Regions from separate parts of the Homo sapiens genome. Here region 2 is linked to region 1. A link means that fine-mapping ties the variant in region 1 to the expression of a gene that starts in the linked region. Tissue or cell type: lymphoblastoid cells. Region 1 holds a variant in brackets; the other region holds the start of a gene. All regions are shown on one strand. Distances are between the middles of the regions.

Region 1 (2,764 bases):
TGGTGGCACGCGCCTGTAGTCCCAGCTACTCGGGAGGCTGAGGCAGGAGAATCACTTGAACCCGGGAGGCGGAGGTTGCAGTGAGCTGAGACCGTGCCATTGCATTCCAGCCTGGGTGACAGAGCGAGACTCCGTCTCAAAAAAAAAATAGGCAAAGGATTTAAATAGGCTTGTCTCTGAAGAAGATAGACATATTGTGCCAACAAGCACATAAAGAGATGTTCAATATCATTAGTAATTAGGGATATGCAAATCAGAATCACGATGAGATACCACTCATATCCACTAGCATGGCTATAATCAAAATGATGGAAAATAACAAGTGCTATCAAGGATATGGAGAAATTGAAGCCTTCATATATTATTAGTGGGAATGTTAAGTGGTGCAGCCACTATGGAAAAGTCTGGTGGTTCCTCAATAAGTTAAATACAGAATTGCCATGTGACTCAGCAATTCTACTCCTGAGTATAGACTCAAACAAAAACTTGTACATGAATATTCACAGTGGCACTATTCACAACAGCCAAAACATGGTAACAACCCAATGTCCATCAACTGAGGAATGATGAACAAAATGTAGTGTATCGATACAATGCAATACTATTCAGGCATAAAAAAGAATACAGTTCTGATACAACATGGATGAACCTTGAAAATATTAAGAAGCTAGACACAAAAGACCACATATAATATGATTCCATTTATATAAAATATCCAGAATAGACAAATCCACAGAGATTTGCAGAAAGCAGATTAGTGGTTAGAGGGACTCGGGGAAGGGAAAATGGAGAGGGACTGCTTTGGGTATGGGATTTCCTTTTGCGGTGATGAAGATGTTCTGGAGGTAGATAGTGGTGATGCTTGCACAACAGTGTGAATGTACTAATTGACAATGTAACATTTATGCTATGTGTACTTTAACACAATTTTAAAAATATAATTTTAAATATTTCTTTTAAAAAATGAATTATCAGCCAGGCGCAGTGGCTCATGCCTGTAATCCCAGCACTTTGGGAGGCCAAGGCAGGGGAATCAGTTGAGGTCAGGAATTCGAGACCAGCCTGGCCAACATGGTGAAACCCTTTCTCTTCCAAAAATACAAAAATTAGCTGGGCGTGGTGGTGTGCGTCTGTAGTCCCAGCTACTGGGGAGGCTGATGTGGGAGAATCGCTTGAACCCGGGAGGCAGAGGCTGCAGTGAGCAAAGATCACGCCACTGCACTCTAGCATGGGTGACAGAGTAAGACCCTGCCTCAAAAAAAAAAAAAAAAA[T/AT]TGCATTATCCCTACTTGTCTTTAGTTCTTCTCCTCTCATTTTTTCTATTTTTGTTTCCTTTGTTTTTTGAGACGGAGTTTTGCTCTCGTTGCCCATGCTGGAATGCAATGGTGCAATCTTGGCTCACCGCAACCTCCACCTCCTGGGTTCAAGCAATTCTCCTGCCTCACCCTCCCGAGTAGCTGGGATTACAGGCATGCATCACCACACCCAGCTAATTTTGTAATTTTAGTAGAGACAGGGTTTCTCCATATTGGTCAGGCTGGTCTTGAACTCCCAACCTCAGATGATCCACCCGCCTGGGCCTCCCAAAGTGCTGGGATTACAGGCATGAGCCACTGTGCCCGGCCCATTTTTTCTTAACCCTACCTAATCAGGCTTCTCCGTGCATTGCTCCACCAACACTGGCCCCACCAAAGTCACCAGTGACTTCCATATTGCTAAGGCAAATAATATATTCCCAGCCCTCATCTTATTTGACCTATAAGCAGCATCTGATGCAACTTACCACCTCATTTCCTTAATACACCTTCTTTTATATATATATATTTATATATATATTTATATTTATATATATATTTATATATATATTTATATTTATATATATATTTATATTTATATAGATATATATTTATATATATTTATACTTATATATATTTATATTTATATAGATATATATTTATATTCCTATAGATATATATTCATATATAGATATATATTTATATCTATATAAATATATATATTTATATATATATTTATATCTATATAAATATATATATTTATATATATATTTATATTTATATAAATATATATTTATATTCATATAGATATATATTTATATAAATATAAATTCATAGTTATATATATATTTATATTTATATATATTTATATATTTATTTATATATTTATATATATTTATATTTATATATTTATATATTTATTTATATAGATATTTATATAAATAGATATTTATATATAAATTATATATATACATATATGTATATATATATACTTTAAGTTCTGGGATACATGTGCAGAACATGCAGGTTTGTTACATAGGTATACACGTGCCATGGTGGTTTGCTGCACCCATCAACCTGTCATCTACATTACGTATTTCTCCCTAATGCTATCCCTCCCCTAGCCCCCACCCCCCAACAGGCCAGTGTGTGATGTTCCCTTCCGTTTCCATGTGTTCTGATTGTTCAACTCCCACTTATGAGTGAGAACACGTGGTGTTTGGTTTTCTGTTGCTGTGTTAGTTTGCTGAGAATGATGGTTTCCAGCTGCATCTGTGTCCCTGCAAAGGACATGAACTCATCCTTCTTTTTGGCCGCATAATATTCCATGGTGTGTATGTGCCACATTTTCTTAATCCAATCTATCATTGATGGGCATCTGGGTTTGTTCCAAGTCTTTGCTATCATGAATAGTGCTGCAATAAACATACATGTGCATGTGTCTTTATAGTAGAATGATTTATAATCCTTT
Region 2 (2,500 bases), 100 kb before region 1:
TAATAAATTGAATATTTCAAGTTCAATAATAAGATAACACAGGTAGGGTCCCCTTCAGGACTCATTGCATTCCTACTCAGGAGGCCTAAATCACTTGCACCTTTTCGAATTATATAGATCATTTACACTTGGGAAAGAAAGATAATAATTGCTTATCATGGATGAAGTACCCTATTTATAATACGCAGGCCGCCTGCCTGACACTTTCATATTACACCAGATTTAGAAGGACCCCACAGGGATGTGGTGTCACAGTCTGGTTACTGCAAATTGGTAATACTATAATTAAGCATCAGAGTTCTAAACACATATGTGTGCATGCATCTCCTCACAAATGTGAAAGAAAACTGTTTCAAGAAGTAAGGGAGAATGAATTTCACTTTGCAATAAGCAATTTTAAAATATAAGTATATTTTAGGATCGTCCTCAAATATTCTTTCCAAACAAGGCAACTCCCTCACATGGAAATCCCAAGGCAGAAATGTGCCAGAATTTTATTCTTTTCCTTTCTGTGACGAGAAACCAAACTAAAGCTTAAATAAACATATAATTGCACCCCCCGCAGGCTTGGAAACCTCCCTTACTTAAAACTCCGGCCCGAGACTGAGACAGGGGCCTAGAGAGTACATTGCAGCAAACGGCTCCATAAATAACCAGCCACACAATAGCAAGAAAAATAAACTGTTAACAAGCGCCTAAGGCTTCTACAGGGCCAAGTGAAAACAGAAAGCCGTCCAGTCACCGTCCCTACACAGTGAAATACCGTCACAGGTAATCTCGGGCACCATCTCTCTATTTTTGTATTCCTCTGGAAATAAAACCGCATTTACATGTACATTTTAGGTACATACATGGACCAAATGTTTATGACAGAGAAGTAGACAAAGCAGAGGAAGGAGAAGCAGCTGCACAGAGAGGGACAGAGGGAGCGAAGAGACAGAGACAGCGAGCTGTTTGCTACCTAATTCTAGCTCACAAACAAGGAAGCGCAGCCAATTCTCTTCGGCGATTCAGCGTTCCTCTCACCGCAGCTGGACAGATCTCGGCCTTTCTCTAATCACCATGGCAACTGCACCTCACCGCCACCGGAAATAAGATGCAGAGCCCTTCTCCAAACGATCCGGCTAGAAATCTAGGAAGCGCTGATCCGGAGCGCACAGAGACAGCTGTGTTGCTCCTCTATCGCGGGGGTGGTATGGCCAGAGTAGTGAGAGAAGGTGCTCTGTTACACCAGCAGGAAATAGGTGCTGTCCTGGGCCTAGAACTCCCCGCTCGCTCCTTTGCTCGCGCACACCCGGATCCTTCGTCGCGGGGAGGATGTTTCCGCCCGGCCGCGGTGGGCTTGACGCAACGTCCAGCGCGCGCTTTTCATGCCTTGGCGTTTCCTTTGGCGGATTTTCTGTTTTCGGAAGTTGCTGGGTTCGTTTTATTCAGCGGCAGTGGTGCTTTCCCGAATCTCAGAATGCCGTAGGTATCTCCTCCCCAGGTATTGCTGTTTTGGGGGCCCTCTGCAAGAAGAGAAGATATTATGTGGCCCAGTAGCCTTTCTCGTTTTCCTATTTTTTCGGAGTATGAACTTGTCTCCTCTGTCCACAGGCAATTCCCTTCGCTTGGTACCCTCAACTCTACGTCTCCTCCAGCGGTACTCATACGATAGTCCTCCTTCGCTTTCTGTTTCTACGATGCTTTTGACAGATTTCGTAAACTGTGGGCTGTATTTAGGTGATGTCTAACTTGAAATAACATAAATAAGGTTGACACACAGGATGGGACAGAGTAGATGAAAACACGCCTTCGTAGTTTGTCAGTCCCTTGCCTTCATTAATGTGGCGCGTTCGTGTAAACCCGTGGGAGAACTCATGGACTGAGTGGGTCTAGATACCTGGATTCCAGATAAGACTCTTTCACTGTTGGGCAAGTCACTTATCGACCCTGAGCTTCGTTTTTTTTTACTTACACAAATAAGTTTGTACTGCATGATCTCTAAATTCCCATCTATGACCAATAATCTGATTATTGAGAATGACCATAGTGGGAATAGGCATTGTGCTAGATAAGATTCATCTGTTTTTCATATCCTTCATCCATCCTATATTGAGATGCATAAAATAGTTGCTACCCTATAGAAACTTAAAAAAGCCATTAAAGGTTGGGGGAGTGGGGTGGATATCAAACACCTGTAATTTCTCCTTGGCCGTCCTTGTCCTCAGGTTGATTTAGGTACCCCCTCTAGTGTAACCTGTTCCTTAGTTTATTTCAGGATTAAGTAAAATGCAAAGTAACACAGCTGGGGAAATTTTTGTATCAAATAGGAATTGACATGAAAGGGGAAAGCTGTACAGAAATGATAACCTATATTTATTGAATCTTGAATTACAATGTGGGTGCTGTATTAATCAATTTATCTACGTTTTTTCATTGAATCCTAAAATACTTTAGGGGATGGGGGCTGCTATTATCTTTACAGATAAAGAAACCCATCACCTAATAGGGTGTTCAA

Which allele goes with the higher level. Alleles are on the strand shown, and positions count from the first base shown. SD is a standard deviation of normalised expression in the study named.
As copies of AT replace T in region 1, the expression in lymphoblastoid cells of the gene that starts at base 1,371 in region 2 goes up (moderate effect, 0.43 SD a copy in TwinsUK).

The links. PIP is the estimated chance that this variant, and not a neighbour inherited with it, causes the effect.
Region 2: ITGB3BP starts here. The variant in region 1 is fine-mapped to the expression of ITGB3BP in lymphoblastoid cells (TwinsUK, PIP 0.95).

The regions. Positions count from the first base shown.
Region 1 is chr1:63,421,533-63,424,296 of GRCh38, reverse strand. All of the region lies in intron 12 of ALG6 (ALG6 alpha-1,3-glucosyltransferase), which reads right to left. Among named protein-coding and RNA genes, the nearest start is that of ALG6, 55 kb to the right of the region's middle. The variant T/AT (reference allele first, on the strand shown) is at 1,273.
Region 2 is chr1:63,522,096-63,524,595 of GRCh38, reverse strand. It overlaps ITGB3BP (integrin subunit beta 3 binding protein), which reads left to right and starts at 1,371. Exons shown (of 9, transcript NM_014288.5): 1 at 1,371-1,467. The coding sequence starts at 1,463. It overlaps EFCAB7 (EF-hand calcium binding domain 7), which reads right to left and starts at 1,071. Exons shown (of 14, transcript NM_032437.4): 1 at 962-1,071. RefSeq lists enhancers at 1,108-1,187, 1,349-1,972.